Homo sapiens: one gene and its partners. The protein of the gene in region 6 purifies or fractionates together with the protein of the main gene of each other region. This does not show direct contact. Each region holds a gene or a part of one and is shown on either strand. Other genes may lie near its edges. The genes, in order: PPP1R10, DICER1, LRPAP1, RBM25, CCNT1, POP1 and TOX4.

Region 1 (3,500 bases), on a different chromosome or scaffold from region 6:
GGACCAGATTCGCATCTTTGCTTTTGAAAGCACAAACCACTAGCTTCCTTTTAACTTAGAGACAGTAAAAACTTGTGTAGTGTTTGGCTAATGAGTGACAGTCTATTCAAGGTCTAGGAGGACCTGCTTGATTTCCATGCATCCATTTGTCTCAATCTCTGGCACCTACTCCCAGATCTCCTTAGGGAGGGATTCTGTTTTCAAGTTTTGTTTTGTTCTCCATCATCTACCACTTCAGCTGATACATATCTTGCCATGTGTAGTGATTATGACTCTTAATGGGCTAAGATAAAAAGGACTCAAGTCTTATAAGACATTTAGCTCAAACACCCAAGATTGGCCCAATTTCTATCAAGCTATAGGCTGTTTTTCAAGCCAAATTTATCAGCAACTAGGGAAGACAGGACTTAACGATAGGTGTAAATGCCCTGGAGAGTTGAACATCTTGTTATGGGAACTGATCTTAGCTTTAATACGATCTAGTGAAGTTCAGCCATCCTAGGAAGGATGCTGCTGGGAGGGAGGGACAGGTGTGCTGCCCTACTCCTCCAATCGAATTGCTTTCCTGTTCAGTCACATATGCTCCCCATGCTTAACTTGCCAGGGCTATTTTCTCAGTAGTGGCAAGTGGTCTGTGTCGATTTTTCATATCTAAAAAATAGCATAGTTGAATAATTAGTCATTATACTTTGTCAAATATAGAGATGTGGTTTATTAGAGGGCCTACTCGGGTAGTCCTTGCCACCCATTTATTCTGTGGGTTTGTTTGTTTTGTCCTCTTACCATAGAAACCACCATCATGGGTTCGGGTCCCATAGACCCCAAAGAACTTCTCAAGGGCCTGGACAGCTTCCTTAACCGAGATGGGGAAGTCAAAAGTGTGGATGGGATTTCCAAGATCTTCAGGTGAGTCTTTACCCCTTTTTGTATTCACTGTGAGTAGAGAATATTGTGTGTTAAAACATGGCTGCAGTTGAGGCACACTGGAATGATCCTGGAAAGGAAAGGGAAAGATAGTCAGTGCAATAGGATTAAAATGTAACAATTTTAGGATAAGGGATAGGAAAAGATGATCACTTGTTTCTGACCATAATGGAAACTGGAGATTTGGACGTCCACGGTCCCAAGGGAGTCATGCTTTGGAATGAGAGCAGGGTAGCCTGGTAACAGAATTCTAGATTGTTTTGGTTCGTGTTCCACCTACCCATAATGTTATTTTCCTTCAGGGATTCTCAGGTTTTTCAGGGGAGAGTAAATAACTAAGCCAGTCTTGAACAGACTATTAGGGACAGTTGTTGAGGGATAGCCTTATCACCTGGAGGCAGAATGGAATTCATCCTGTGTGTTACGGAGGCAGCGATGCTCTCCTCCCCAGGTCAGAGACTGCGGTGTCTCTGTTCTCCCATAAGTTTCCATGTCACACTGGATCCATCCCATCTTCCTAGAGGTATATGTGACTCCCCTTCTCTGGAGCAAAGTCCCAAGTCATTAGGAATCTCTAGGCAGTTCACAGAGAGGCGCTTTTGCTAAGAGAAGAGATACTGGCTGCTTCATTTCTAACCCTAACTCATCTTCTGCAGTTTGATGAAGGAAGCACGAAAGATGGTGAGTCGATGCACTTACTTGAACATTCTCCTGCAGACCCGTTCACCAGAAATATTGGTCAAGTAAGTGGGGATCTGGATGGTTGGAATGGGAAGGTGTAGCGAAAAGATGGGGCGGTGAGGCATGGGGTTCCTCGGTCATTGATGGGAGACTGGGATTGTAGGATGTGGTACTGTCAAAACCTAGAAAGGGCATTACTGATAGACTCTCCTGCCTGCCTGCAGATTTATTGACGTTGGCGGCTACAAACTTCTTAACAATTGGCTGACGTATTCAAAGACAACCAACAACATTCCCCTCCTCCAGCAAATTCTACTGACCCTGCAGCATCTACCGCTCACTGTAGACCATCTCAAGCAGGTACCTTTAGTCTTTAAACCCTGATTCTTCCTTTTTTGGTTTAGTCTAATGGATGAAAAACTCAAACTGACTGATGTGGCTGTAATCTTGGGCCTGTGAGGTAGAACAGCAGAAAAAAAATAGGAATTTAGAAGAAGAAGACTTGGTTTGAATTTATCTCCTTTAATAGGTGTGTGGCGGCTGGGCACGGTGGCTCACGCCTGTGATCCCAGCACTTTGAGAGGCTGAGGCGGGCGGATCATGAGGTCAGGAGACTGAGACCATCCTGGCTGACGTGGTGAAACCCCGTCTCCACTAAAAATACAAAAAATTAGCCAGGCATGGTGGCATGCGCCTGTAGTCCCAGCTAATCAGGAGGCTGAGGCTGGAGAATCGCTTGAACCCAGGAGGTGGAGGTTATTGTGAGCCGAGATCGCACCACTGCACTCCAGCCTGGGCGACAGAGTGAGACTTCGTCTCAAAAAAAAAAAAAAAAAAGGAATGTGTCAGCCAGGTGTGGTGGCTCACACCTGTAATCCCAACACTTTGGGATGCTGAGGTGGGTGGATTGCTTGAGCCCAGTAGTTCAAGACCAGCGTGGGCAAAAATGATAAAACTCTGTCTCTACAAAAAATACAAAAAATTTACCCAGATGTGGTGGTGCATGCCTGTAGTCTCAGTTATTTAGGAGGCTCAGGTGGGAGAATCATTTGAGCCTGGGAGGTCGAGGCTGCAGTGAGCCAAGACTGCGCCACTGCACTCTAGCCTGGGCAACAGAGTGAGACTCCGTCTCAAAAAATAAAAAAAAAAAAAAAAGCAGGGAGGACTGTAACTTTTGTCGTTTTTAGCTCTAAGTGGAATTATTTGCCTCCTGGCATTTACCTTTCTGCTGCTCCCATCTCTCATAGAACAACACAGCTAAACTGGTGAAGCAGCTGAGCAAGTCAAGTGAGGATGAAGGTAGGGTGCCACTTCTGCTCTCTCATGGGCTTTTCTCTATTACTTCCACTTAATTACCTTAATATCTTTTCCCATCCTTGGATTGTCCCTTCACTTTTCTCTTTCTACCTCACCTTGCTTTTTTTCCTTCTTTTAAAGAGAAAGTTCCTCTAACCTGTACCCTCTTTCCTGTTCTCAATTCCAAAGTTGTTCATTTCTCTGTTGCTGAATATAAGGTGCCATACTTTAACTGGAAGCTGATTCCTAAAATTGCTTGTTATAAAACACATACACTTAAAATTTGCTGTGGGAAATAGTATCATCCTAGCGTGTCTCATCTGTGAAACTCCTATTACTAAATGATAAATTATGAAATGAGTTTATAAGTGGAAATGTTGGCCAGAAGAGAGGTGCCATAGATCAGAGATGTTATTTGCCAAGTACAAAAGGAAAGAGTTACAAAGTATTTTTTCATATATTTAGAAACAAATTTTATTCTTGTTTTCACATCTATAAAGGAAAATAAAAAGTCTTCAGATTGTTGTAACAATTAGGTGTGTTATACATAAAGCAACTAACGTAGCTTTTTAAAAAAATGTCAGTTTTTGAGGAACTGG
Region 2 (3,500 bases), on a different chromosome or scaffold from region 6:
TGGAAAAGCTGAATGGTATTTCATTGTATGAATATACTGCATTTTGTTTATCCATTCATCTGTCCATGGCCACTTGGGTAGCTTCTATCTTTTGGCTACTGTGAATAATGGTGCTGTGAACGTAGGTATACAAATAATTCATTGGAGTCCATGCTTTCCCTTCTTTTAGACATATACCTCAAAGTGGTCACATTGTTTCTTGATCTTCAAAACACTAGACTAGACTCAGAATTTATTGCAGTATGAGTTTTCTCAGGGTTCCTCCAAGCAGTGATAATTTCCTACAAACAACTCCTCTGTCAGTAAAATCTGTAATCTCTCTGAAGCCCAGGGTCGACTCCTTTTTACGATCTTGGTTCCAATCATAGTGTCTGGCAGGTATTCAAAAAACTGATCAAACATGGAGTGATGTGCTTTATTGAATGCCAGAGGAAGATATTGGTGAGGTCTTTAATTTGTATAAAGAGAAAGTTGGAGCCAAGTGACTTATTTTGTTTACCTTTTGCTGTGCTTTTTGGACATTCAAGAGCTTAGTTCATCCTGAAAGCCCAGTGTATGTATTATACTCGCTCTTATTCACAGGTTTCTTTGCAATTTACGACTTGCCAAATGACTAGTCTTCTGAGGCAGCATTATTTTCTTGGTATTCCACCTCCTTAGCCTGTGGGGCTTGGACCTTTTGATTTTTTGATGGCTAGTTTTCACTTCTTCCAAATTTCTGCTAAGACTCTAGTATTAGTACATTTATTTAATAGTTTATGATGTCTATTTTGAGAAAGGATTTGAAATGGTCTTATAATAGGAAAGTATTAGAGTACTATGAAAATGGTAAAGGTTGGTAGTATAGAATGTGGAGGCAGAGAATTAGATGAATGATTGGGGCAAGGAAAGGTGAGTGCTGCATGTAACTCACGTTGATTAATGAAAGGAAGCATACCAATTTGAAGCAGATTTTTCTCTTGTATGAAGAATAATCAATCTTTTGGATTATTACATTAAATAACATTAGCAATATATGGAGAAAATGTTTTACATTTTACAAACGATAGAGAAACATTTTTTCACATGCCATTTTAGAGAAACTGGATAAAAGCCTCAGGCATAATAGAAAAGCTTTAGTAATACAGGTGTTCACTGTTCCAGTGGTTTGATTCATTAATTTCTTTTGGGTGGTGTCCCTCGAATATCAGTTGTCTCATTCAGGCTGTTGACAGATGCTAAATAACAATCCATTCAGGAATAAGCTCTGTGGACAACATGGGCAGTGAGGATTTTCCAAATAGGAATTCTCACCCAGTCTTTTTTTTTTTTTTGAGACGGAGTCTCACTACGTTGCCCAGGCTGGAGTGCAGTGGTGCGATCTCAGCTCACGGCAAGCTCCGCCTCCTGGGCTCATGCCATTCTCCTGCCTCAGCCTCCCGAGTAGCTGGGACTACAGGTGCCCGCCACCACACCCTGCTAATTTTTTGTATTTTTAGTAGAGATGAGGTTTCACCGTGTTTAGCCAGGATGGTCTTGATCTCCTGACCTCGTGATCCTCCCGTCTCGGCCTCCCAAAGTGCTGGGATTACAGGTGTGAGCCACCGTGCCCAGCCCTCTCACCCAGTCTTTAGGAACGTGTGTTGGTCTAAAAAGTAAGACTGGTTGTATCGTGGTGTATACTTGATGAATTAATACAGAAAGAAAAAGATTATTTTTGAGATGTAGCTGGTGAAATTGACATTTTCAGTTATGTAATAAAGCCTTTGTTAAAATAATTCTGAGTGCAAAATGGCTTCCTCATCTAAAATTGTCAATGAATTGTTGGTACTCCTTTAACATGCAGTTACCTCAATATGCATTTTAAATAAGTGACTAAGAAGATGCTACAAAACATTCTCTGAGGATGTCAGTAAGACTGTTACTAGAAGTAAGACATGACAGGCTTAAGTTTGGCCTTAGAGTTTTTTCTTTTTGTTTTTTAGGCTTATAACAGCATTACATGTTCTTGGTTGTGTTAAGGTTTATGGAATAGTAAGGATTAGATTCTTCATGCATGTTCATTACCAGACATGGTGCTTGACATATAGGAGACACTCCGATTTGTTGAGTGAGTAAGTTAATTTATAATACTTTTTGAAGTATTTAGAAGCTAACACAGTTTTGTGGGGAAGAATATTGCTTGCATATTAAGGCTTTTAAAAAGATTATTACTATTCTGCTTTTGGACAAATCATGCTACTTGGTCCTTTTTGCTTTGTGAGGTACGTATGATTATGTGCACAGAAACATTGCAGACTGAGGGAAGTGTTAAGAATCGTGGGAGAAAATCGCCGTCAAAATTGGAGTTTAACTGTATTGCAGACTTTCTCCTTGTTGGCACAGACTAACTCTGTTGTGCTTGTTCGTTCTTTGACAGCTCAATGTATGCCATAAAGCAGGGGTTTTAACAACACATTTGAACAATTCTTGAGGATTAGAAAATGAGGTCTGTTAACCAGTTCAGAATTTTAAGAAAACAAACCGGTTGTACTTAGAGAACTTGAATAATGAGAGAAGACTCTTAGTTTAAAAACTGATCTTTGACATGATGTAGGAAGGTTCTTTGATTAAGAAGTTAAATGACCCTGTTTGAAGGGAAAAAGAAAGGTAGTAGTCGTATTTAGTCGTATTTAGTCCTCTGAGATGTTTCGAGATTGCAGGATTTCTGTCTTTCCTCTTTTGGTAACATCCTGGGAGGTGAGATTAACATGATGAACTCACAGCCTGTCCGCCTCTTATGCATCCTGCTGCCCAGCCATCACTGTCAGTTGCTCTGATTCATGGTATTTTAAGTTCTTTCCACTTTGCAGAGTTAAATATTAATGTTTTATCATAGCTTTGTAGGGATGCTTAAGAGCAAGTGTTTGGCGTCAGAGAGACCAGGGTTCAAATCCTGATTCTTCGACTTTATAGCCGATGAGCACTGGGCATATGGCAACGTCTCTTGAGTCTCAGCTTCCTTGTCTATAAACTGTCGTAGTGGTGTTTGCCTCTTGAGGTTTTGAGAAAAAAAAGGAGTTTCTTAAACTCTCATGGTACATAACTAGCATTTGATAAAATTAATGTAATATTTTTCTTTTAAATACGTGTATTAGAGAAAATTTTAACATGCAATAGTCTTAATGTGATTAGATTATATTGTGAGCCCCCAAATTATCAATATTGAAATGTATGGTCTAGTAATATAATGGAGGATGAAGGAAAAGAGGGCTTGAGAACAATATTTTACAGACAAGTTTTCGAGGAGGATTATCTATACTGGTTCAGCTATCTTAGTTGGTCTCTGTAGTAGTGATACCAAATGTAACAGTGCCTTAAACGTCTCTTAACTTTCCCTAAATAACACATTCTTCATCTGCTATGCATGAATTAACACATCATCCTTGAAATCATACTTCAATTCAGTGTATAAAGCCAAGTGTTTTGTAAAATAAACCTCAAGTTAGGTTTTATGTTTCCTTATGATTAGATTCAGGTTT
Region 3 (2,656 bases), on a different chromosome or scaffold from region 6:
GGTGGTGGTATAGACGGTCTTGGGGTAGCTGGTATAGACGGTCTTGGCGTAGCTGGTATAGACGGTCTTGGGGTAGCTGGTATAGACGGTCTTGGGGTAGCTGGTATAGACGGTCTTGGGGTAGCTGGTATAGACGGGCTTGGGGTAGCTGGTAGTGGTGCTCAGGAGGCGTGTGGGCTGCTGGTGCAGCTGGAAGCGCACCTCAGCCATGGTGTTGTGCCAGGTGTGGTTGGGGATGCAGGGGACGTTCCGGCCGCAGGAGGCCCCTGCCAGGCACAGGCAGCTGCGCGGTGTGGAAGAAGTGCCGCTCGGAGTCATGCTTGACAAGGAAGTACACCTTACTCCTCTCAGTGGTGAGGGGTCAAACCACTCCTTCCCAGCGATGGGGCCAGCAGCCTGGCGAGGGCTAGGCACCGGGGAGGGATGCTGGATTTGGAGCTGGGGGGAAGGGGTCACCCTGCATTGGGCTCCAGTGCTCCGGGTGCCATGCCTGCTCCCCCACCACTGCCACCGCAGCCGCTGCGGGACACCAGGGGCTGGGGCTGAAGAGCAGCCTCGAGCTGGGCTGTCCAGGACACGGTCGCCCTTCTTCCTCGTGTCCGTGAGCTCAGGCACAACCTGCAGCTTAGCCAGCCCACTATGGCTGCGTGCGTGGCAGGACCCGGGCCACCATGGCTGCGTGCATGGTAGGGCACATGATTATTTTAGCCTCTGGTATCACTAACCATCCCTAAAGTCTCCAATGGTCTGTTCCTGTCTTTCCCTCTGGTTCACTTGTGGGGTCATGTTGTCTTCTGTTCTTTGTTATTTATTTTTTTCTTGAGACGGAGTCTTGCTCTGTCGCCCAGGCTGGAGTGCGTTGGTGCGATCTCGGCTCACTGCAACCTCTGCCTCCCAGGTTCATGCGATTCCCCTGCCTCAGCCTCCCAAGTAGCTGGGATTATGGGCACCTGCCACCATACCCAGCTAATTTTTCTGTGTGTGTGTGTGTTTTGTTTTTTGGTTTTTTTTTTTTTTTTTTTGAGATGGAATCTCAATTGCTCAGGCTGCAGTGCAATGGCGCAATCTTGGCTCACTGCAACCTCCACCTCCTGGGTTCAAGAAATTCTCCTGCCTCAGCCTCGCAAGTAGCTGGGATTACAGGCCCCTACCACCACAGTGGGCTAATGTTTGTATTTTTAGTAGAGACAGGGTTTCACCATGTTGGCCAGGCTGGTCTCGAACTCCTGACCTCAGGCAATCCGCCCACCTCGGCCTCCCAAAGTGCTGGGATTGTAGGCATGAGCCACCATGCCTGGCCTAATTTTTCTGTTTTTAGTAGAGACAGGACTTCACCATGTTGGCCAGGCTGGTCTCAAATTCCTGACCTCAAGTGATGTGCCCACCTCGGCTGCCCAAAGTGCTGGGATTACAGGCATGAGCTTCTGTGCCCGGCCTGAACTGTTAAGTGTTTGTGAAGAATTATTTGGGGGCCTATTTGAGAGCTGTTATATGGATCATCCTCCTGGAGAGGGTTCTTAAGCCTCTGAGACCGGGTTTGGGGCTGAGGCTTTCTGACCCACACAAGTCATGCTGACCCCTGAAGGGCCGCAGGCCAGATCTTGCCAGGTGAGCACTTTCCCCGCTCACATTCAGGATAGGGCGAGGGGGTTGGTACCGATTCACCCTCAGGGCCTAGATTTGGGGGCTTCAGCTTGCTGCAGATAGGTGCTCCCTTCACTCTCACCTGAGGCTGGGCTGGAGCCTGGTGTCTGCCCCACCCTGCTGGTCAGCCCCCTAGGACCTGAGCCCCGTAAGCCTGGACTGGCCACGCCCTGGGGCAGCAGCACTGGGTGCTTGGCGCTCACGACCTTCCTGGGCCCCTGGGTCCCTCACTTCTCCCTTGTTTCTACCTTCCTGGCTTGTCAGATTCCCACAGCTCTTAAGGAGAAATTCAGTATTTACTGCAGCATGTGTTTTCAGTGTGATGGTTCATCTAGGTACCCTAGCCTGTCATTGCTGGAGTTGGAAATCTCTGTTGTCTGCTGTTGTTTTGTGAAACAAGCGCGTGAGGTTATAAGTTTCCCTCAACGTACCACACTAACCACATTTCCCTAAGTTTTGATGTGTAGTGTTTTCACTGCCATTCAGTTCAAAATATTTTCTCATTTCAAGTATGATGTCTTCTTTGATCCATGTGTATTTTTAAGTTGCTAAGTGTACTTACTTTGGCCGGGCATGGTGGCTTACGCATGTAATCCCAACACTTTAGGAAACTGCGGGGGGGAAGGATCACTTGAACGCAGGAGGCTGAGGCTGCACGTCACAGGGAGAGACGGGCCGCGGTGATGTACGAGCTTCCTGTTGATAGGCAGTTAAGTTGGTTCGGGATAACGTGGCCTGCCTGGCACGGGTATTCCCAGAGTCACAGATGCTCACCCGTGCCAGCGTTGGCTGCTTGGGACATGGGGACGGCGAGGTCCCCACACCCCACATGTGAGCTGCTGGTAGCTGGGCTGAGCCCAGGTCCCATCCGTGTGTGGGGCGTGAGTGTGCGGTGCCATCGGGTCTGCACGGGCCTCGCCTCGTCCCGGACGCTCCAGGCTTCCTGTGGCACGGGTGCCGAGAGGGACCAGCCTGGGCCTGCTGAACCGAGGGGGTGGTCTAGGGCAGAGGC
Region 4 (3,433 bases), on a different chromosome or scaffold from region 6:
GCAGACCCTATCTCAAACAAACAAACAGAAAGATTTCACGTGAATGCATGTAAAACTACTTGTCATTAGTGGTTATTTAATAGTGCAATGCTAGACCATGAATTAGAACCCCATATATACTCCTCTAGATAAACCACCTGCAGGGACTACTGACATAATTACAATGGGCAAAACAGACTAGGTGACCTCTAAAGCCCCTTCCACATATTACTACTTCTACTGAGAATCTTCCTATTTCCCATTTCCTCTCAGCTTATCACATTTGATAATTCACATAGTATTTTGTATTTATGTCTAATGATGTTCCTGAACTCGTGTAATTTTTTTTGCCACCATTAGATGATCAGCTAACAGAAATACATGTATTTTTTTGAGATGGAGTTTTGCTCTTGTTGCTCACGCTGGAGTGCAGTGGCGCAATCTCGGCTCTCTGCAACCTCCACCTCCTGGGTTCAAGATGCTGTCTCAAAAAAAAAAAAAAAAGTAGACAGACTCAGGAGTGTCATTTAATTCAAACAACATGGCTTGAAAAGAATTTTTATTTTTGTTTCTAGAAATTATCTTCTTTACCTGGGTATTTTAGACTGCCATTCTTTAATTTCGCCTTCATGACTCAAGTAATGAAATGCAAAGATTCTGTCAATTAAAAATGTAAGCATTCAAATGCAAATAAATTAACATAAATATTTCAGTATTTTACCATAATCACATTACAAAAAATCTATCAGTTTATCAAAAAGTGTAAGTTCACTTCGCTCTATAGTATGATTGTTATATTAGTAGCTCCTGGGTTTGGTATGTATCTCCCTGTTTTCTTCTTGACAGCTAGACTGTTTCTTTGCCTGCTTGGGATTCCTTCTCATACCCTTTTATCTCCAGTGACATTCACAAATCAATCCCTCATCATCTTTTGTTGAGCAAAACTATTTCTCAATTTCATACTTAACAGAAGACTGAAATACAACCCAGAGAAGTTTGTAATCAATTTGACATAAAACCTCTCAGCAGTCTTTTGGGTATAAATTGGGGATATCATAAAACCTGTTAAAAAGAGTTGGGAAAATAAGCCTCATCTAAACATTGTATACCTGCTTACACTTATTTGCATTAAATTTATTCCATTAAAAAGGAGAAAAAAAGATAGTGTCTAGTTCAAATTGGCTCTCAAGCTAAATGTTTTCTCAGTTTTTCTACTATATCTAGTATTCATGGCAGATTAATACCTGAAACAGCACGCTTCACAAAATAATCATTAGCTTACACTTACATAGTTTACAGGGAAATGCCATAATAAGATTCAGAATAAGTTACAACATAAAGTTATCTACAGAAAAAATTTTCAGGGCTGGATGGAAAAAAAGCCTAGAATATTAGGGCTTTCTCAGACATAATTTTGCAAGATTACATTACGTTCATGAGTTACGTGTATTTGCCTCAAAAAATGTTTTTCTCTTTAAAATCTACTTAAAGGAAAATTCAGCTGCATTTATGTAGTCTGTTAGGATAAAATAATACTGAATAGACACCTTAAAGTGCTAATCAAAATGTAGTCTTGGATCAGTTGGCAATGACATTAGCTGGGAGCTGTCCAGAAATGCAAAGCCTGCGGCGCCACCCCAGCGCTGCTACTTCAGTGTCTCTATTTCTACAAGCACTCCTCAGATGATTTGGGGTCACATTAAAGTTTAAGAAAAACAACTTCAAACTTACCTTTCTTCCTTGTGAACAGATGTACATACTTTATTTTTAGGGACAAATAAAGAAAAGTAGTATTCTACTACTTTTTTGCCAGATCAAGACTGGTTCTTAAGATGTTCACGCTTTGGCCAGGCAAGGTGGCTCACGCCTGTAATACCAGCACTTTGGGAGGCTGAGGCGGGTGGATCACCTGAGGTCAGGAGTTTGAGACCAGCCTGGCCAACAAGGTGAAATCCTGTCTCTACTAAAAATACAAAAAATTAGCCAGGTGTCGTGGTGGGCACCTGTAATCCCAGCTACTCAGAAAACTGAAGCAGAATATCTCCAGAACCCGGGAGGCGGAAGTTGAAGTGAGCTGAGCTCGCGCCATTGCACTCCATCCTGGGCGACAAAAGCACAACTTCCTCTCAAAAAAAAAAAAACCCCAAAAAAACAACAAAAAAAGACTTTCATGCTCTTTATATAACAACTTGAAATGGCAAAATGAATTCATACTGTATAAGGTTTTCAAACTAAAATTAATTTATGAGATTATGGTAAAATTAACCCACAAAGTTCAAGCAACTTAATAGAAATTTCTTATGTGTATTTTCAGACACTAGAATATGCCTGTTTAATGTCTAATTCTTTATATATACAATTCTAAAAATCAACCAACTCTGACAATCTAAAGCCTTTTACTGAAGCTTGGTTACAAAACATGATTTAAACTGGCATTAAGCGATTAACAGTTTCTACCACATTTACTGTAACAATTTTCACTCTGCTGCAGAAACTTTAATATATGAACTTGCACAAATTCATATATTTAGTTGAGGTCCTGTCACAAACCTCACTGGAGATGTTATGCAGTACAGAGTACATCTCCCCAAAGGTTTCAGATTACGACATCTCCCTTGTTTTTAGAGTGGCCCTTTAAGATAAGTACAGTTGACAGAGCAGGAGAAGAAACGAAGCAAAGGAAATCAAATCTACCTGAATAAACCTTCATGTTAATAGTGGCTAAATAAAAACAACACAATATGATGCTTAAGAACAGTGCAGTATGTTAAGAAAAGACAGACACAATAAACTCCTCGAACAAGGTCTTAGGCTGGGGGTGTGTCTAAGAAAAGACTGAAAAATTAACGAAAATGGCAAGGGGCATCTTTTCTGAAATTTTCCGTTGAGAAACCAGAATTTAAAATAAAAGAGACATTTCCATAGATGTATAGTAGATTCATCCAAAATAATGTAAATGGCTTCCTTGACCTTTAGATACCAATAGTCATAAAAATCAAGTCCATAAAAAGTTCAGCCCATATTTTTAACTTTTCTAGTATGCACCACACAATTACAACATGATGCCATTTATTTACATGATTCTGAAAGAATATGAGTCCCCAGGATCAAATATATACATTTTTAATATTTGAAATATTTACATAATGGAACCACATCAGGGTTCGAGGGTAAGAACAGTGTTTTCAAATGTCCTCTCCAGGTGTGTTTAAAAAAAAAAAAAATCCAGTAATCCAAAGCTCACATTATGCTTTTTCTAACAGGCCAATCTTTACCTTTCTTTTAAATAAGTACTCAGACATGGGAACAGTTGCATCTAATTTGTGTGAAAAGCTGTTTAAAACTTCTTACGTTTTCAGGTAATTTTACTCCCTGGTGAAATTCTGATCTACAACGAAGAAAGCCCCAGGAATTTCTCTAAGCACATCATCAGTACATTTTTAAACACTAATGA
Region 5 (3,500 bases), on a different chromosome or scaffold from region 6:
CAATACATAATAGTTCTGCTTTGGCTAAATTTAAAGGCCTACTTGGCTTAAATCAAAATGAGTTGTTCTGACTTGATGTTTTTCTGTTGGGTTCTTACAAGTAATATTTTTAGATGATCTCTAGTTAAAGAGAACTAACCTCTTGAGAATGTTTGTCAAAGTTGGGCAGTTTGTGAAGTTATTTAACAGAAATTTTATGAAAGTTGTGAGGAGTGGGTGATCTTATTTTAATTCTGGGGTTGATTAAAGGCCACCTAGAGGATCATACAGAATTTATTTGGACTTTCCATGATATACAATCCCTTGGCAGAACTTTTCTTTTTAATTCTAATTTAACAATATTAGGTATAATTGAATGAAACTCTCTTATTTAGTTTAGTATCAAGAATATCTGAACACTATTGTGCCTTTAAGTGCCTTTTATGATTTTTAGGCCAAACTGATAATTGGTCTTATTTTACATTTTACTAATATGTGTTTCCTGTGAAAATTCCCAAATTTTCCTGAGTTCTTTATATTTGAAAGTATTAAAATGTTATATTGCACAAGGATAAGACTAGAGATGGGTGTATGTTAATATTGAGAAGACTATGTCCTGAGGAAGATAAAAATTTGCTTTGTCACCCAGAACAGTTTGTTTTGGAAGAAGTTAAATTTTTTCATTGTAATATATTACATTATTTGATGATTTGGGGATTAATTAATTAAATCTTAATTAGGGCTACTTAATTAAAAACTTTTTTTTTTTTTTGAGACGGAGTTTTGCTCTTGTTGCCCAGGGTGGAGTGCAGTAGCACGATCTCAGCTCACCACAACCTCCGCCTCCCGGGTTCAAGCGATTCTCCTGCCTCAGTCTTCCGAGTAGCTGGGATTACAGGCATGCGCCACCACCCCAGCTAATTTTTTATTTTTAGTAGAGACGGGGTTTCTCCATGTTGGTCAGGCTGGTCTTGAACTCTGGACCTCAGGTGATCCGCCCACCTCGGCGTCCCAAAGTGCTGGGATTACAGGCGTGAGCCACCGTGCCCAGCCTTAATTAAAAACTTTCTTAACAGCAAAAGTCACTTTTCCCAAATATGTCAAAGTCTTCTAGATTCTGATCTTGCTTCTAGATCATCTTAGTTCATCCTGTAGTTTAGTGATTCTCAGTGAATCCTTACATCAGAATCTCTGGGTTACTTGTTAAAAAATGCTTGCACCCTTCTCCAAACATTTAATTAAATTTTAGGGAGCAGGTCCAAGAATTGCATTTAAACAAGTACCTCAGATATGTGGTGTGCAGAATAAAGCTTGAGTACCTAGATCTGGAAGCAGCATAGTTATTAATGTTAAAATTAAAAATCATTGATCTGTCTACTTTGGCAGAATGTAAACGTCAGGTTTACAGGGACCATGTGTGTCTCATTTGCCACTATATTCACAGTACCTTGCAAATATTAAATGCTTACTAAATATTTGTTGAGAATGAATGGAACTAATAACTTTTTTCCTCCCCCACCCCTGACTTTTTTTTTTTTTCTTTAGCAAGCAAGGACTTAGCACAGACTTCTTACTTCATGGCAACCAACAGGTTTATATTTTAATTTTTTTTTCTCTTCGATTTTTGGTATAGGACTTTACTTGAGTTTGATACAGTGTGCTATAGATAATTCTCTGGTGAATGTTGATTTTTCTGCACAGTTTTCATGTTGTACTTTAAATTTCCATGGTACTTTTTAATTTTCTAAGGTTATGTAATTATTTAGTACTGATTTTTTTGATAACCTACTCAGTTCTGCATGATAGTGACTGAAAATCTAATTTGGAGTATTCTGCAATAATTATATGTGTATATATATATATATATATATATTTTTTTTTTTTTTTTTAAATTATTATTATTATTTTTTGAGACAGAGTCTTGCTCTGTTGCCCAGGCTGGAGTGCAGTGGCACAATATCAGCTCACTGCAAGCTCCACCTTCCAGGTTTACACCATTCTCCTGCCTCAGCCTCCCGAGTAGCTAGGACTACAGGTACCCGCCACCACGCCCAGCTAATTTTTGTGTTTTTAGTAGAGATGGGGTTTTACCTTGTTAACCAGGATGGTCTCGATCTCCTGACCTCGTGATCTGCCCACCTCAGCCTCCCAAAGTGCTGGGATTACAGGCATATATATATATATATATATATATTTTTTTTTTTTTAAGACAGAGTCTCACTCTGTCTACCAGGCTGGACTGAAGTGGTGCGATCTTGGCTCACTGCAACCTCTGCCTCCCGGGTTCAAGTGATTCTCCGGCCTCAGCCTCTTCACTAAGCTGGGATTATAGACTGGCGCCACCATGCCCCGCTAATTTTTTTGTATTTTCAGTAGAGATGGGGTTTCGCTATGTTGACTAGGCTGGTCTCAAACTCCTGGCCTCAAGTGATCCGCCTGCCTTGGCTTCCCAAAGTGCTGGGATTACAGGTGTAAACCACTGTGCCTGGCCAATAATTATATTTTAAAATATTCCTTTTTCTTCCCCCTCTATCAATCAATGGGCACTTATGGATGTTAAGAGTTTCAGTCTTTTTCCTTCTTCCCTTTTTAAAAAAAGTAAATGAGACTGGGCACAGTGGCTCATACCTGTAATCCCAGGCTGAGGCTGGTGGATCACTTGAGGCTAGGAGTTCGAGACCAACCTGGCCAACATGGTGAAACCACATCTTTACTAAAAAATACGAAAATTGGCAGGGCAAGGTGGCACATGCATGTAGTACCAGCTACTCGGGAGGCTGAGGCACGAGAATTGCTTGAACCCAGGAGGCAGAGGGTGCTGTGAGCCGAGATTGCCCCACTGCACTGCAGCCTGGGTGACAGAGAGAGAGACTCTGTCTAAAAAAAGTAAATGATTAGTACATAACTTGTATTACCAAATGACTTGCCCAACATTGTTAGTTAATGGAAACCAATGATATCCCTAGTAACTGTCAGGGCTAAGAAGTTCATTTTTATAGCCTGTTACGAAAAAGTTTTGAAATAAACCAACATATTTATACTTGAGAGAGTAGTTGTCTGTTTATTATTTTAAATAGACCAGAACTATGATTGGTGAGAGACAAATTATTTTTAAGATATTTCCTTAAGTTTTTGATTTACGGATTACACAGACCAAAAAGCTTACAATTTTCCTTAGGATCTGAGCTTAGTCTCAGGATAATAGGTAATAAATATTGACTTCTAGGCTTGAATACTGGCCCAGAAGTCAATGTTTTAAAGAACTTGAATTCCCAGCCTTTTTCCTTTTTTCCTTTTTTTTTTTTTTGGCTCTGGTCAATGTGTAGATTAAGTGATGTGTAATTCAAGAGTTTTTAAAATGTTGTTACCTGAACAGGTGGGTTAATAGGAAATTATATTGAGTGCTAGATCAGAGCATTGCATATTTCTTACCCTTCTTACTCTCCTGTCTATTTTTAAGCCTTTTTTTTTTTTTTTTTTTTTTTTTTTAAATAATGGAGAGTTTTAGCTTTGGGCTGAGA
Region 6 (3,500 bases):
ACTCATTTAACACATATTTGTTGAGAACTTATTGTGTGCCAGGCTTTGATCTGAGCAATCCTCACAACCAAAACTTCACCTCTCATGGAGGCAGACAGTAAATGACAGTGTGGTTATCAGGAAATAGGACTGCAGTCTCAACACCCGGAATTATGGAATTTTGCTTTTGTTGATGTCAGGGCTGACGTTTGCAGCAGTTCACTGCTTGTCTGGAAAGCGCCAAGGGAGCCTTGTGCTTTATCGGGTGAATAAATATCCCAGAGAAATGCTTGGGCCTGTTACGTTTATCTGGAAGTCCCAGAGGACCCCGGGTGACCCTTCTGAGAGCAGGCAGCTGTGGATCTGGCTGCATCCAACCCTTAAACAGGTATAATCCTTCAGGTTATCTCCCGTCATTCTGAAACTGCATTTTTAATTACTGCTGGAAGTCAATACTGTAGAAATGTAAATAGTGTAAAGGTTTGTCTGATAGTCTGATATTTGTATATGGGGGGCTCTATGATTATTGAATGAAGTGAATTTTTAAAAAACTTTAAAAATTTGTATTTAAAAATGTCTAATTGACAAAAAGCAAATATATTCAAAGTATATAATATGATGATTTGATATACATGTTGTATACCACAATCAAATAACACATCCATCACCACCCATGCTGTACATTATATCCCCGGAACTTGTTTATCAAATATAATGAAGTCAGGGCGGGGCATGGTTTCTCATGCCTGTAATCCCACCACTTTGGGAGGCTGAAGCAGTTGGATCACTTGAATCCAAGAGTTTGAGACTAGGCTGGGCAACACGGTGAAACCCTGTCTCTGCAAAAAAGACAAAAATTAGCTAGGATTGGTGGCATGCACCTGTAGTCTCAGCTACTTGGGAGGCTGAGGCGGGAGGATCACTTTGAGCCCAGGAGGCAGAGTTGCAGTGAGATGAAATCGTGCTATTGCACTCCAGCCTGGGTGACAGTGAGACCCTGTCTCGAAAAAAAAAAAAACTAATCTTGACATCTCATATTTTTAGTAAGTCATAAGCAGAAGTAGAGATAAAAACCAGCCTTATGCTAATTATTTGAAATGTTGAATTTGAACTAATGTTTCTACCATGACTGAAGTGGTTCACTAGTATCTAGGGGCTATTTGATAATGAAAAGCTATTTTTGAGTAATTCTAATGATTTTTCACACTGAATTTAGCTTAGCTTCCCTTCTTTAGCATACTCACTACTTTAAAAAAATGTAGTCAGAGTGATCATGTTGTTTTCATAATATTTGACTAACCCTACCCCTAGCCCCAGCCCTAATTAACCCATTTGAAATTTTCAGTTTCAAAATTTTTTTTTGTTTAAAGTGGCATACACTACTCAGAACACCCAAAAAAGCTTTTTTTCAAAAATTAAAATTAAATTAAAAAAAATTTTTTTTTCCCAGAGGGTTTTGCTCTGTCATTGAGACTTGAGTGCAGTGGTGCAGTCATAGCCCACTGCAGCCTCTACTTCCCAGGCTCAAATGATCCTCCTACCTCAGCCTCCCCGAGTAGCTTAGACTACAGGGGTGCACCACCTTGTCCAGCTAATTATTTTTTTATTTTGTGTAGGAACAAGGTCTCCCTATGTTGCCCAGGCCATGGTCTCAAACTCCTGGGCTGAAGCCATCCTCCTGCCTCAGCTTCCCAAAGTGCTGAGATTACAGACGTGAGCCACCACACCTGGCCGAAAAAAGCTTTTTGATGATAAATTTAATTTAAGTTAATTTGTGAGGGAATACAAATGTGATTTTTTTTTATTTTTTATTTTTTATTTTTTTTTGAGACGGAGTCTTGCTCTGTTGCCCGGGCTGGAGTGCGATGGCACGATCTCAGCTCACTGCAACCTCTGCCTCCCAGGTTCAAGTGATTCTCCTGCCTTAGCCTCCTGAGTAGCTGAGATTATAGGTGCCTGCCACCCAACTATTTTTTGTATTTTTCAGTAGAGATGGAGTTTTGCCAGTTGGTCAGGCTGGGCTCGAACTCCTGATCTCAGGTAATCTACCCACCTCGGCCTCCCAAAGTGCTGGGATTACAGGTATGAGCCACCGTGCCTGGCCAAAAATGTTAATTTTTAAAGAGATTTAAAAAAAAAAACCCAACTAAATTTGTCGTAATATATTTAAATTTCAAGATTTTAAAGTGAATGTTTAAATATATTTTTAGGATATCTTAGAGGAAATAAAAGCAGCGTGCCAGTGTGTGGAACCCATCAAATCAGCTGTCTGCATCGCTGACCCACTTCCAACACCATCCCAAGAAAAAAGCCAAACTGAATTGCCTGACGAGAAAATTGGCAAGAAAAGAAAAAGGAAAGATGATGGAGAAAATGCTAAACCAATTAAAAAAATTATCGGTGATGGAACTAGAGATCCATGTCTACCATACTCTTGGATCTCTCCAACCACAGGCATTATAATCAGGTATGAGTTGAATTTGCTTTGAACCTACTGAACATTTTCAGTGAAGACCTGCTCCATTTTTGTCAGTGGCACAGATGTTGTGTGATGAAAGTTTCCATTTTAAGATGTTCTTTCTTTTTCAGCGATTTGACGATGGAGATGAACAGATTCCGGCTGATTGGGCCACTTTCCCACTCCATCCTAACTGAAGCAATAAAAGCTGCTTCTGTCCACACTGTAAGAGTAAAAGTGACTGTAGTGTTTTATTCTAATCATGTTTTTCCTGTCAAATTTGTGAAACCTAATATATAATTTGGTAACATTTTGGGCCATGGCTTTTAGATGTTTATTTCCCTACTTATTATGCTTATTATCAAAGATTTTGTTATCTTTCACTTCTCCTAGAAGACCACAACTAAGTGGATATGATCAGTAAACTGACTGTTCTTACTTAAATACAGACTGCTCTTGCATCTGTGAGTCTTGTAGAGGGTCTTAACTTCTGCTTCATAGGTAGGGAGTCTCTAAAATCCCTGAAATTGTGTGCCAGATTTTGTGATGTGTGCGTGTGCCATGTAGGTTTTCTTTTCTTTTTTTTTTTCTGAGATTGAGTCTCATCCTGTTGCCCAGGCTGGAATGCAGTGGTGCGATCTTGGTTCACTGCACCCTCTGCCTCCTGGGTTCAAGCGATTCTCCTGCCTCAGCCCCCCGAGTAGCTGAGACTATAGGTGCACACCACCAGGCCCAGCTAGTAGAGACAGGGTTTCACCATGTTGGACAGGCTGGTCTGGAACTCTTGACCTCAGGTGATCCGCCCACCTTGGCCTCCCAAAATGCTGGGATTACAGGCATGAGTCACCGCACCTGGCTGGTTTTCTGGGGCTAGTTTTAGGGGTCTAGAATCTCTAAAAAGGTTAAGAGCAGTATGTCTAGGGCAGCACTTCCAGTAGAGCTTTCTGTGAGGATGATGTTCCTTTGTGCTGTCCAGTACGACAGCCATTAGCCACATGTGGCAGTTGAATACTTGAATTGTGGCTAGAGTGACTGAGGAACTGAATTTATACCTTTACTTAAC
Region 7 (3,500 bases), on a different chromosome or scaffold from region 6:
CAAAACAACATACATAAATACATGATTTGTGTACTACTGAGAAAAGTTCAGTTCTTGGGGAAAGTTTCAGTTTTTCCCATCAAGAACTGCGTGGTATTTTTTGTTATTTGTGTGTGTGTGTGTGCGCGTGTGAGACAGAGTCTTGCTCTGTCATCCAGGCTGGAGTGCAGTGATGTGATCTTGGCTCACTGCAGCCTTCAACTCCTGGGTTCAAGCGATTCTCGTGCCTCAGCCACCTGGGTAGCTGGGATTACAGACGCACACCACCACACCCAGCTAATTTTTGTATTTTTAGTAGAGATGGGGTTTTCCATGTTGGCCAGGCTGGTCCCGAACTCCCGACTTTTCAAGTGATCCACCCACCTTGGCTTCCCAAAGTACTGGGATTACAGGTGTGAGCCACCACTACCAGCTGAGAACTGTGTGTTCTTATGCTCCGTGTGCTACTTATATCTCAGACAACGACCAGATTTTTTACCATACCAAGTAAAATAGTAAGGAGAAGGGAAACTGTACATATATCTTTTTGTCTTTTAGGAAACTTTTACAAATGTGATTCAGAGATTGGGCATTTCACAGGCACACTTTTTTCTCCCTAGTTTCTGCTAGCTGGAAATTTTCTTTCTAGCAATGTCTTTTTTTTTTTTTTTTTTTTTTTTTTTTTTTTTTTTTGAGACAGAGTCTTGCTCTGTCACCCGGGCTGGAGTGCAGTGGCACAATCTCGGCTCACTGCAGCCTCTGCCTCCTGGATTCAAGTGATTCTCCTGCCTCAGCCTCCTGATGTAGATGGCATTACAGGCACCTGCCACCACACCTGGCTAATTTTTGTATTTTTAGTAGAGATGGATTTTCGCCATGTTGGCCAGGCTGGTCTCGAACTCTTGACCTCAGGTGGTCCACCCACCTCGGCCTCCCAAAGTGCTGAGATTATAGGCATGAGCCACGGCACCCGGCCTTTATTTTCTTTCTTTTTCTTTTTTTTTAGACATGGTCTTGGTCTGTCGCCCAGGCAGGATTGCAGTGGTGCAGTCTTGACTCACTGTGACCTCTGACTCCTGAGTTCAAGTGATCCTCGTGCCTCAGCCTCTCGAGTAGCTAGGATTATAGGTGTGTGCCACCATGCCTGACTAATTTTTTGTTCTTTTGGTAGAGACGGGTTTCACTGTGTTGGCCAGGCTGGTCTCGAACTCCTGGCCTCGTGTGATCCGCCCACCTGGGCCTCCCGAAGTGCTGGGATTACAGGCGTGAGCCACTGCTCCCAGCCTAATGTCTTCATTAAACCAGAATTAGAGGCTGGGCGCTGTGGCTCATGCCTGTAATCCCAACAGTTTGGGAGGTCAAGGCAGGGTGATGGCTTGAGCCCAGGGGTTCAAGACCAGTCTGGGCAATATGGCCAGACCCAATCTCTACAAAAAATGCAAAAATTAGCCTGGCGTCATGGCCAGGCGTGGTGGCTCACGCCTGTGATCTCAGCACTTTGGGAGGCCAAGGAGGGCGGATCACCTGAGGTCGGGAGTTCAAGACCAGCCTGACCAACATGGAGAAACCCCGTCTCTACTAAAAATACAAAATTAGCCGGGCATGGTGGCACATGTCTGTAATCCCAGCTACTAGGGAGGCTGAGGCAGGAGAATCACTTGAACCTGGGAGGCGGAGGTTGCGGTGAGCTGAGATCACGCCATTGCACTCCAGCCTGGGCAACAAGAGTGAAACTCTGTCTCAAAAATAAAATAATAATAAAAATTAGCCTGGCATGGTGGTGTGCACCTGTAGTTACTTGGGAACCTGAGGTGGGAGAATCACTTGAACCCAGGAGGCGGAGGTTGCAGTGAGCAATATCACGCCACTGCATTTTATCATGGGTGACAAAGGAGACTCTATCTCAAAAAAAAAAAAAACTGCCAGGTGCGGTGGCCCATGCCTGTAATCCCAGCACTTTGGGAGGCTGAGGCGGGTGGATCACGAGGTCAAGAGATCGAGGCCAACATGGTGAAACCCCGTCTCTATTAAAAAACACAAAAATTAGCTGGGCGTGGTGGCACACACCTGTAGTCCTAGCTACTCTGGAGGCTGAGGCAGGAGAACTGCTTGAACCCGGGAGGTGGAGGTTGTAGTGAGCCAAGATCGCGCCACTGCACTCCAGCCTGGGCCACGGAGCGAGACTCTGTCTCAAAAAAAAGAAAAAAAAAAAAAGACAGAAATGGTCATAATAGAAGAACATTTCAGGATCTAGAGGAACCTTGAGGTCTGTAAGCCCAACACTTTGGAGGCCGAGGCAGTAGGATTACTTGAGTCCAGGAGTTCGAGACTAGCCTGGGCAACACAGGGAGAGCTCGTCTCCACAAAAAATTTTAAAAATTAGCTGGGTGTGGTGGCACATACCTGTAGTCCCAGCTACTCGGGAGGCTGGGGCTGGAGGCTTGCTTGAGCCCAGGAGTTCCAGATCAGCTTGGGTGACAGGGCAAGACCCCATCTCAAAAAAAAAGAAAAGGAACCTTTAGGAACTCTATTTAAAGAATGCATTGTTCAATTATGAAAAAAAAAAATGTTGGTACCTATTGAATTTGATCTGAATCAGTTTATATTTACTATGCTATGTGTTAGATTGATAGAATTTAAAGTTTCTAAAATTCCAATTATCTGTTATAATTGGTTGGGGTGGGGGTAATCATTATTAGGATATTATCATTCATAACAATGGTTAATGATGGTGATTAAGCCATTATATGTATCAGGCAATGTGCTAAGATTTTATGCATGAAATCTCACTTATCCTCATAATAACCATATAAGGGGATTACCATTATAATTCCCATTTTACAGATGAAGAAAACTTGTTCAAGGTCTTGTACCCAGGTCTCTCTGACAGCAGTCTCTTGCTATTATTTATAAATGTCTATTGCTGTAAATGCCACCATTTAGATTTTAGTGTCAAAACAGAACCATAGCAGTTCACATCTTAATCAGACATTGTCTGTTAGCTGCATGAGTGGTGGCCTCATTCAGAAAAGAAAGAATGTGTTATTATTGACCTAGTTGGACTCAGAGGAAGAGATTGGGTCTTTAGCCAACTGGAGTAATCCTTTTCCTCTCTTAGAGAGAAGCTTGGTCAGAGCAAGACTAGCATTTTTGGCATTGTTGAGGTTTTCTGAAAATCCTATACTAATGGGAATCTTTATTTGTTGTTAACATTATAATTTCTAAAGTGGAGAAGAAGTAGGAAACTCTGCAAATATTTTAGAGGGGGTAAAGTTCCCATGACAGTACATTTTAGCATCTGTTTGAAAGGAACCTAAAACAACAAAGTATAATTGGCTGGCTGACAGCGAATTTCTGTGACCTAACAGTTTAGATGTAATAATTGTGAAATAACTGCTCTATTAGAATCTTTAGAGAGAGATTTCAAGAATCATAGTAAACAGGTTATAAAGGCTATGTCCTAAGTAATGGTACTGAAAGAATTTTTCATTAGAACCATAGGCATAATTTAAGACAAAAGA

What was found.
Region 1: the proteins of POP1 (region 6) and PPP1R10 purify together in Homo sapiens (affinity purification with mass spectrometry, with the first as the bait; one large-scale study listed by BioGRID). This does not show direct contact.
Region 2: the proteins of POP1 (region 6) and DICER1 purify together in Homo sapiens (affinity purification with mass spectrometry; one large-scale study listed by BioGRID). This does not show direct contact.
Region 3: the proteins of POP1 (region 6) and LRPAP1 purify together in Homo sapiens (affinity purification with mass spectrometry, with the first as the bait; one large-scale study listed by BioGRID). This does not show direct contact.
Region 4: the proteins of POP1 (region 6) and RBM25 purify together in Homo sapiens (affinity purification with mass spectrometry, with the first as the bait; one large-scale study listed by BioGRID). This does not show direct contact.
Region 5: the proteins of POP1 (region 6) and CCNT1 purify together in Homo sapiens (affinity purification with mass spectrometry; one large-scale study listed by BioGRID and IntAct). This does not show direct contact.
Region 7: the proteins of POP1 (region 6) and TOX4 purify together in Homo sapiens (affinity purification with mass spectrometry, with the first as the bait; one large-scale study listed by BioGRID). This does not show direct contact.

The regions. Positions count from the first base shown.
Region 1 is NC_000006.12:30,607,244-30,610,743, reverse strand, and holds part of PPP1R10 (serine/threonine-protein phosphatase 1 regulatory subunit 10), read left to right. Parts: intron 1-788; 5' UTR 789-799; coding exon 800-906; intron 907-1,580; coding exon 1,581-1,667; intron 1,668-1,829; coding exon 1,830-1,965; intron 1,966-2,852; coding exon 2,853-2,904; intron 2,905-3,500.
Region 2 is NC_000014.9:95,151,030-95,154,529, reverse strand, and holds part of DICER1 (endoribonuclease Dicer), read left to right. Parts: intron 1-3,500. UniProt on the Homo sapiens protein: Double-stranded RNA (dsRNA) endoribonuclease playing a central role in short dsRNA-mediated post-transcriptional gene silencing.
Region 3 is NC_000004.12:3,503,112-3,505,767, reverse strand, and holds the end of LRPAP1 (alpha-2-macroglobulin receptor-associated protein precursor), read left to right. Parts: 3' UTR 1-2,156; downstream 2,157-2,656. UniProt on the Homo sapiens protein: Molecular chaperone for LDL receptor-related proteins that may regulate their ligand binding activity along the secretory pathway.
Region 4 is NC_000014.9:73,120,967-73,124,399, reverse strand, and holds the end of RBM25 (RNA-binding protein 25), read right to left. Parts: 3' UTR 501-3,433; downstream 1-500. UniProt on the Homo sapiens protein: RNA-binding protein that acts as a regulator of alternative pre-mRNA splicing. Involved in apoptotic cell death through the regulation of the apoptotic factor BCL2L1 isoform expression.
Region 5 is NC_000012.12:48,696,208-48,699,707, reverse strand, and holds part of CCNT1 (cyclin-T1), read left to right. Parts: intron 1-1,524; coding exon 1,525-1,570; intron 1,571-3,469; exon of another isoform or gene 3,470-3,500. UniProt on the Homo sapiens protein: Regulatory subunit of the cyclin-dependent kinase pair (CDK9/cyclin-T1) complex, also called positive transcription elongation factor B (P-TEFb), which facilitates the transition from abortive to productive elongation by phosphorylating the CTD (C-terminal domain) of the large subunit of RNA polymerase II (RNA Pol II).
Region 6 is NC_000008.11:98,134,293-98,137,792, forward strand, and holds part of POP1 (ribonucleases P/MRP protein subunit POP1), read left to right. Parts: intron 1-179; coding exon 180-367; intron 368-2,189; coding exon 2,190-2,446; intron 2,447-2,568; coding exon 2,569-2,662; intron 2,663-3,500. UniProt on the Homo sapiens protein: Component of ribonuclease P, a ribonucleoprotein complex that generates mature tRNA molecules by cleaving their 5'-ends. Also a component of the MRP ribonuclease complex, which cleaves pre-rRNA sequences.
Region 7 is NC_000014.9:21,483,695-21,487,194, forward strand, and holds part of TOX4 (TOX high mobility group box family member 4), read left to right. Parts: intron 1-3,500. UniProt on the Homo sapiens protein: Transcription factor that modulates cell fate reprogramming from the somatic state to the pluripotent and neuronal fate. In liver, controls the expression of hormone-regulated gluconeogenic genes such as G6PC1 and PCK1.